3 linked regions of the Homo sapiens genome follow. The protein of the gene in region 1 purifies or fractionates together with the protein of each later gene. This does not show direct contact. Each region holds a gene or a part of one and is shown in the gene's direction. Other genes may lie near its edges. The genes, in order: ADCYAP1, AMD1 and STK3.

What was found.
Region 2: the proteins of ADCYAP1 (region 1) and AMD1 purify together in Homo sapiens (affinity purification with mass spectrometry; 3 studies listed by BioGRID and IntAct, with this or other methods). This does not show direct contact.
Region 3: the proteins of ADCYAP1 (region 1) and STK3 purify together in Homo sapiens (affinity purification with mass spectrometry; 4 studies listed by BioGRID and IntAct, with this or other methods). This does not show direct contact.

What each region holds. Positions count from the first base shown.
Region 1 is NC_000018.10:910,252-912,817, forward strand, and holds the end of ADCYAP1 (pituitary adenylate cyclase-activating polypeptide preproprotein), read left to right. Parts: 3' UTR 1-1,921; downstream 1,922-2,566. UniProt on the Homo sapiens protein: PACAP is a neuropeptide involved in diverse array of physiological processes through activating the PACAP subfamily of class B1 G protein-coupled receptors: VIP receptor 1 (VIPR1), VIP receptor 2 (VIPR2), and PACAP type I receptor (ADCYAP1R1).
Region 2 is NC_000006.12:110,893,899-110,896,278, forward strand, and holds the end of AMD1 (S-adenosylmethionine decarboxylase proenzyme), read left to right. Parts: 3' UTR 1-1,815; downstream 1,816-2,380.
Region 3 is NC_000008.11:98,819,132-98,822,796, reverse strand, and holds part of STK3 (serine/threonine-protein kinase 3), read left to right. Parts: intron 1-3,665. UniProt on the Homo sapiens protein: Stress-activated, pro-apoptotic kinase which, following caspase-cleavage, enters the nucleus and induces chromatin condensation followed by internucleosomal DNA fragmentation.

The sequences.
Region 1 (2,566 bases):
GGCAATTCCAATATTTCTGCTTTCTTTGATTCTCCTTTTATGTGTAGTTGTCTCTCTTCAGACTCTCAGCCCAGAAGAAAATTCTCCTGATAAAACAACAGCTCGATCCAAATTGTGCTTCTCCCCAGAATTCACGCCTCTCCCTAGGAGAAGAGTTGAGGAACTGTACAGAAAAGGGCGGCTTCGTTAGACCGCTCTCTTTTCTGTACTTCCTGAGTGGCCAGGGAATCTAATATCCCCAAATTAGGGCAATTGGAACAAAGTGAAGGACATAGAGGTATATTGGAAGAGGCAGAGCCTGAGGTGGTAGGAGGAGGACCCTGGAAATGGACTGGTTTGAGATTGCCCCAGGTCTGGGAAGCTGAGGGCAAATCCAGTCCCAATGGTCCTGACTTTGGGCGCTGGGTATTGGAAATGGATGCAAAGTACAATGTGTTTTTCTCCAGTGCTGTCCATGCTTCTCATCTTGTGAAATGGCCAGGATCCTCTCCTTTGAAACCTGCTCTGTAGGAGCTACCCTTTTCCTTTGTGGTTTTATGGAGACCTCTCCTTCCTACCCTCCTGCACTGTTTAAGTACTGTTTACCATTTTTCATTCACTTCTCTTAAACTTGTGAATGCTTCTCACTTTTTTTTTTTGTTTGATGCAGGCACTTATTGTAAATTTTAGAAACCCCTCTGTAGCCACTAGTAAGTAATTATGCACTAAATATGAACCCTTTGTTTCTTGTTTATTGAGTTTGTAGGTAAAATGTATTTTTCTACATTATTGCTTATTGCTTAGTAAAATTTATTTCATAAAACCAACCTTTGTCATATTAGAATGTGTAGTGTTCACATGTTGCTCAGTTTTGCTAACTGATAAATCATTTAATCCTCTTCTTCATATGTATGAGTACTATCTTATATCTGTGGTCAAGAGTGAGGTAAGCAAGCTCCAACAGACCCTGAGAACCTACGCTTGTATCCTTTCTTTGGCTAAAGAAAGCATGTCTGTTTCCTGTCAATTCTTTGAACATACAGAGTAATCTTTATAAACAAAAGAACCTTCACCCAGCAATCAGATCGAGCAGCAACAGACAAACCAGCCAGCCAATCTCCCAAATTTCAGGCACAAGTTTATTTATTTATTTTTTTATGTTTTGAAAAAAGAAGATGAAGAAGAAGAAAAAAAAAAGAACAAGGAAAGATTAAACGTTAGCTTGTAAAGTTTAAAGGACCTTTCCTTTTCCTTTACGGATTTGATCAGTATGAAGTCATAAATCAAAGAAAACAGAATTGGATTTGCATTCCCAGGCGGGATGGATGCTGCCAGGAGATCACATTGCAAATAGTGAAAACAGAGGCATTCGGTCTATGCCTGAGTCCTGTGTATAGGATCAATCTTCCTTTAATTCCGCAGTCTCCTCAGGCAATGTGACACGGGATGCAGTTTGCAGCTTTAGTGCCTTTCTTCGCCTTTTAAATTGCCACGAATCACAGATGGCTATTTAGTGGCCCTACAATGCTGCAACACATCAGCTTGCATTTTAGTCTTAATTATTTGTTTCTTGGATAATGGGCAGAGTTTTCTGTATTTGTATCAGCTGTTAGTGGTGAAATAGGGCTCTAGTTAACCTTTTATTTATGAAGTCTAATTTAGTGTTCCCGTGGCTAGTTGCAAGCATTTTACAGTGATCACCCAGTTTAATCTTTTGTATACTTTTTAGAAATGCCAAGAGCCTTACTAAACTGAAGCAGATTTATGATATAGTGATAATTTAGGTAGATGTTAGTCTTGAAGCTCTTATTTTGTGTGCAACTGATTATAAAAACACCTTAACCAAGTATTATTACACACATGATATCTATAACTAGGACTTTGATAACTGTTATATAAAGTGTGTAAAATTTGTATGAATAAATTTTTGTAAACAATGCAACTTGGTCTAATGTTTGGGAAAAAAGACATTCAGGAAATAATTACTTTAAAATCTCTTAAAGTATTATATTTCTTTAGCAACCATAAGATTTTTTTACGTCTGGAATATATATCTATCTAAGCACCCTTGTATTTTCATGAACTGCACTTTAATAATTGATGGGCAACTGGATTCTGCTAAAAATTTAAAGTAGCTACTCAGATGGAGATGCCTAAGAAGGTTTTAAGCTCATAAACAGGCATGATGTTGCAACATTATAAGACACACAATTTAGATTAATTTCCATCCCCTAGTGTGTATATACTTTGCTCAATATTCAGAAAGTTACTAGGTAGTAGTGGGAGACAATGCTGGAGCATTAGTTACACATCTAAAATAGCAATCTAACATTGTTCTTTTATTTTTTATTTTAGTGGCCAGGTCTCACTATGTTGCCCAGGCTGGTCTTGCTCAAGCGATCCTCCCACCTCAGCCTCCCAAAGTGCTGGGATTACAGGCGTGAGCCACCACACCCAGCCTAAAATAGGGATCTAACATTGTTCTTATACAAGTAACTCTGCAGACTAAACTTGTCTTGATAAAATTTTGTATAAAATGATCTAAATAATCAGTTTTTGGAGGTTTTAAAATGTGTTTAGAGACATA
Region 2 (2,380 bases), on another chromosome or scaffold:
TACAACACTTGTGAAAGCAACTCAATTTGGTTTATGCACAGTGTAATATTTCTCCAAGTATCATCCAAAATTCCCCACAGACAAGGCTTTCGTCCTCATTAGGTGTTGGCCTCAGCCTAACCCTCTAGGACTGTTCTATTAAATTGCTGCCAGAATTTTACATCCAGTTACCTCCACTTTCTAGAACATATTCTTTACTAATGTTATTGAAACCAATTTCTACTTCATACTGATGTTTTTGGAAACAGCAATTAAAGTTTTTCTTCCATGAGTTGAGTCCTTAAGAAAATGATTCCAGTTACTCATTTTGCATATTTGCTATTTTAACATTATTGGACCCTGCATTTATAGTCCTTTGATTTCTTCCCTCTCCCTGGTGTCTCCCCCAAGACCCCAAATAAAGCAATACACTGTTAACACTGTGGGTTTATATACTAATTCTATACCCCAGATGGGGAATGGGGGAGATGGTCCCTGGGCTTAATATTCTTTAAAGGGCATGGGAATTTAGCCTCTCTTTTATTGTAATGTGCTCTTTTGGAAAATAGTTGGTTAGCAGGGAAGACCCAGAGTTGTAGATTGAGATTAGGGTGTACTGGCTGAACTGTGGAAAACATACAATTCTGTGTTCCTCAGTAAATGAGATTAGCGTCTAATGAGTAGCACCCCTTTACTAACTTAGTAGTAGTATAAAATCATTTTTATTTAGTTAATTACCAGAGAGATTTAGCATAATTTTGTTCTGGATTCAGTAAATCAAGTCAGCTTGGATCATTCACCTTAACTTTTCCTTTAGCAGCCATTTCCACTAGTTTCCATTAAGTAGTGTTCTATAAACTTTGATCCAAAGCAGAATCAATGTCTTTTCCATCTCGTGACTTAAAGTTCTGTGACTGTGATGCATGTGAGTGTTCCGACTTCATCTGTTCCTCTTAACTACGGTGTTTCCCTTACCATGGCATTCATAGGATGAAATGAATGACTGCCCAGAATGAGAATTTGTCCAGATTATTCAGATAAACATCATAAAGCAGAATACATTATAAATAAGTAGAATATGAATAAATAGAATAATAAAATTCCAAAATACTCAATGGGAAATGACTAGTAATATAGGCTTTCAAGAGTTGGTACCTTTTAGCTATATTTGCAGATTCTCTGGGATTTTAAGGAACTGAGAAAACAGCAAAGTTGACTAAATTTTATATTTCTTGTCCTCTAAATATTTTGATAATTTCTGGATTGATGCAGTGATGTTTTTGTTCCTTCCGTATTTATAAATGAAACACCTTTTTTTAGTGTTTCTAAACCTAAAATCTACTTGGTTTGAAATCAAGTGGTTGGAACACTGTTTGACTTTTATTTGAAGCATGTTGTTGATTGAAAATTTCATTGAGGAAGTTTTCAATCAGTGTGATCAGTTTGATTCTGTAATGAGCACAGCACCTAATATTTTGAGGAGCTCTGTTTTGAGGACCAATGCTTAAGGTGGACTTTGTTCGTAAACAATATCCCAATAGATTTGTTGACTTGAGGTCTGGTTTGGTTTTGTTTTTGTTTTGTTTTGTTTTGTTTTGTTTCCAATAGAATTAAGAATTCTAATGTTGAAAAACTGCACAAATTTTTATGGGACAAAGCCTAGAAAAGAGAAATGTAGTTTGAATCATAATCTAAATCATCGTATGATAGAAGAGGGAAAGTTTTGGTGCCATAATTTCTCCTTTCACTGGTGTTGGACTTAAATCAGTTGAAATGTATTTCTGTACCACAATTTACGCTTCAATAAAAGTTTAATTGTCTAGTGACATTCAGAAACTTTTCTGTTGCCCTGTTTTTTAAGTAGCCTACTTGACCAAATACTACATGTCTGAAGTTTAAAATCAATACAACAATGTGTATTTATGAGTTTGGAGTTAGACAGAAGTTTAAAAGTGTTAGGTCCCAACCTTTATTATAGACTAGACTCTTAAAACATTGGTTGAGGATGATCAAACTCAAATAAGTTTCCTTATTTCATTCATGGTTATTTCTATTAAGTAGAAAAAAATTTATAACCTTGATCATTTTCTTTATTTTTTTTAATTTAGGATCTTGTTCTGTTGTCTAGGCTGGAGTGCCGTGGCTGTTAACAGGTGCGATCATAGCATACTGCTTCCTTGAACTCCTAGGCTCAAGCAGTCTTGCTGCAGCTTCCCAAGTAGCTGGGAATGCAGGGTTCTGCCATCACACTTGGCTTTGTCATTTTCTTTATTTGGCAACATTTTAGTTCCACAGTCAAATATGTAATAAGCTGAAAAATCTTATGAAAATGTATATTCTGATCTTTCTCAGAATATGCTTCCGTTAGAAAATATTTCCTCAATTTTCATTAAAAACAGAT
Region 3 (3,665 bases), on another chromosome or scaffold:
TCGGCCACCTAAAGTGCTGGGATTACAGGCATGAACCACCGTGCCTGGCCCCCGTTGTTCTTTATTTATGTTATAGGCTGTGGGTACTCCCAGCTTTACCTTTATTCACATTTTTCCTTTAGAAAAGTTTGTGTTACTTTTTGCCTGAAGAATAATCTATGTTTTATTCTTCCATCAAAGCCTACCTCATCAAGTATGTTTTCTGAGTACTTTCTAGCCTGAGATATTTCACTGAATTCCTAATGTGATATACATTTGATTATATACCATCTTTTTATTCTATTTTATTACAAAATTTTAGATATCCAGAAGATAATGAGGGCCTACTGCGATGGTGCACGCCTTGTAATCTCAGCACTTTGTGGGGCTGAGGTGGGAGGATTGCTTGAGCCCAGCAGTGGGAGGTTTCAGTGAGCTATGATTGTGCCACTGCACTCTATCCTGGATGACAAAGTGAGACCCTGTCTCAAAGAAACAAAAATAAAAATAAAAACAAAACAAAAAGAAAAAAGAACAGAGCCTAATTTAATAGATACTTAGGTATTACCATCCAGTTTAAGAAATATTAATAAAAATATTACCAATACATTTGAAGCCACCATGTGTATTTCTTCTCAATTACACTCCCTTCCCATCCCCCAAAAGGTAATCACTGACATGAATTGGATATTTGTCCTTCCCATACATGCCTTTATATTTTTAGTATGTTACATATATATGTGTGTGTGTATGTGTGTGTGTGTATGTATGTGTGTGTATATATATATGTATGTATGTACACATATCAACACATAATGTTAGGCATGGGTATTAGGCCTGGCCTTGTCACTGACTTTGAAATTTGCTTCTTTGGGCATCTTCTTCTCCTCTGGGAGTTGGAGATTCCAGTGTGTAGCCCAGTTCAAGAATCATGACTCAGAGACCTAGATGATTTTTAAGGCACCTCTCACCCTCATATTCATTGATTTGGTCTCCTTAACAAGGTTTGTGTTAAACATAGGCAATAGATGTGGTCACCCATGTCACCAACTTGAGGTACCAGAGTAGTTTTTAGATTCCTTAGATTTCGTTAACATACTTGTCACTGAGGTCTTCAGAAGTCCTTTTTTTTCTTTTTAACTTTTTTTTTTTTTTTGAGATTGGGTCTTACTCTATCGCCCTGGCTGGAGTGCAGTGGCACAATCATGGCTCACTGCAGCCTTGACCTCCCTGTGCTCAGGTGATCCTCTCACCTCAGCCTCCCTGATTAGCTGGGACCACAAGCACGCACCACCATACCTAATTTTTTTTTTTTTTAATTTGTAGAGATGAGGTCTTGCCATGTTGCCCAAGCTGGCCAAAGTCGTTATTAAAAGGATTTCCCTCTGGGAAGGGAAATTCATTAAATCATAGATCCCCAACCATTTTGGCACCAGGGACCAGTCTCGTGGGAAACAATTTTTGCACAGATGGTTTGGTTGGGGGCGAAATGGTTTCAGGATGAAACTTCCACCTCAGATCATCAGGCAATAGTTAGATTATCATAAGGAGCGTGCAACCTAGATTCCTTGCATGCACAGCACAATAGGGTTCGCACTCCTATGAGAATCTAATGCTACTGATGATCTGACAGGAGCTGGAGCCCAGAGCAAGGGCGGTAATGCTCGCGTATAGCTCACCTCCTGCTGTGTTGCCTGGTTCCTAACAGGCCATGGACCAGTACTGGTCCACTGTATTGTGCTGTAAAGGAGTTGGGGACTCCTTTATTAAATGATCATTAATTAGCATTTTGGTTAGATGGAATTTGTTGGATTTATTTTATTATTTTATTATTTTTTTTGAGGTGGAATCTTGCTCTGTTGCCCAGGCTGGAGTGCAGTGGCACAATCTCGGCTCACTGCGAGCTCCGCCTCCCAGGTTCACGCCATTATCCTGCCTCACCCTCCTGAGTAGCTGGGACTGCAGGCGCCTGCCACCACACCAGGTTAACTTTTTTGTATTTTTAGTAGAGATGGGGTTTTACCGTGTTAGCCAGGATGGTCTCGATCTCATGACCTCGTGATCCACCCGCCTTGGCCTCCCAAAGTGCTGGGATTACAGGCTTGAGTTACCGCGCAGCCGAATTTATTGGATTTTTTATAGGGGAACTGCTAGCTGAGAGAAAAATGACCACATAATAGTCCAGCTTTGATAGGTAGAAAGGTAAATGACCAGAAAACATGGGCTCTTCACCAGGTGGAACCTTCATAGAAGGGAGGTGGGTCTCTATGATAGACAGGTGGGCAGCATGAAAATATATTTAATACTTGTCAAAGAGAGGACAGAATATCACTGCTGGAGTGAGACACTTTACCAGATAGGCTTGTTCCTCAAATAGGTTATAGTGTTAGTAGTTATTTAAAATGTGTAATTCGTTGATTAAGGTATGGTTGGAGGGCAGGTTAGCATTGAACAATGAAAACACTAAAAGGATAGTAAAAGAATAAGCTATTGAAGCATACTTACTCTCAAGACAGGTGAGTTCTTTAATTTAAGCTATAGTTGGATTCTGTGGCAATTTTTTATTATTATTTTTAATAGTGTGAAAGGGTAGTTTGGGGGAAATAAAATTGAAGGTTGAAGTCATATGTTAGGGGTCCTTCACGCAAATGGAAAGCTAGAAAACACTAATTTCATAAGGGCAAATGAGTGTTTGGATGGATTACCCATCAGAAAACAGATTATTATGGAAAGAAAAAGCAAAGGGATCGGGTTGAGAATATAGAGGAGTTAAGCAGAAAGTACTCATGAATTCTTCAGCATGAAGAGCCCACATCAACTTGTAGCATCTGTAGCCCGGATCTCAGGCCAGGAATTAGGAATGGAGAGAGATAGCAGATAACTCTCAGCGCTTATGAATGGAAGTGGGTGAGAGAAAGCAACACACCAGTTAAGTAGATAGTAGGAATATCACAAAGATATTATTGCAGGGAGAAGAGGGGTGGATGTCATTTTATGTGTATATTTCTAATTTATGTTTCCTTGGAATGTTGGAAAGTAAAATTGTGTGTATATCAGAGAGATTGACTAAATAGAGAGCTGGAGTTGTCTTTGAGAAGATGAACTCTAAGAACTCTTAAAAAAACCCCAGCAGACTCAGAGGAAGGCCCTAGGGAAAATTTCCAATTCTAGAGGTAGGCAAGTGGACAAAATATTCAAAGTAGTTAGTCCAAGGGGAAAAGAACCAACCAAACAGGAGCATCTCTGAATTAACAACTTGGTCCCTAAAGCATCTGCTGTCTTCCCTTTGGCTTTTCTTGGTTAATTTAGGGTGGCATTAACTTGATTAGGATTGCTTTAGGCCGTGCTGATGGGAATAGTCAGTTGGCTCTTCCTTCTTGGAGAGAGGGAGTGCGACAATAAAATTTGCAATACTTCCGGTAAACAAACTTCTGTTGCATGTCAACTAGAGAAACTCAGTCTTTAGTTGACTCTAGGAACACTTCAGGCCATCATATATTACTGGCTTTCAACATTTAAAAAAAAAAATTCATTGATACTGAGACTCAGTACAGACCCACACATTTACATAAATGGGAGGTAGAGGTGGGACAATTGCTTGAGCTCAGGAGATTGAGGCTGCAATGAGCCATGATTGTGTGGATGCATTCCATCCTGGGCAACAGAGCAAGACCCTGTCTCAAAAA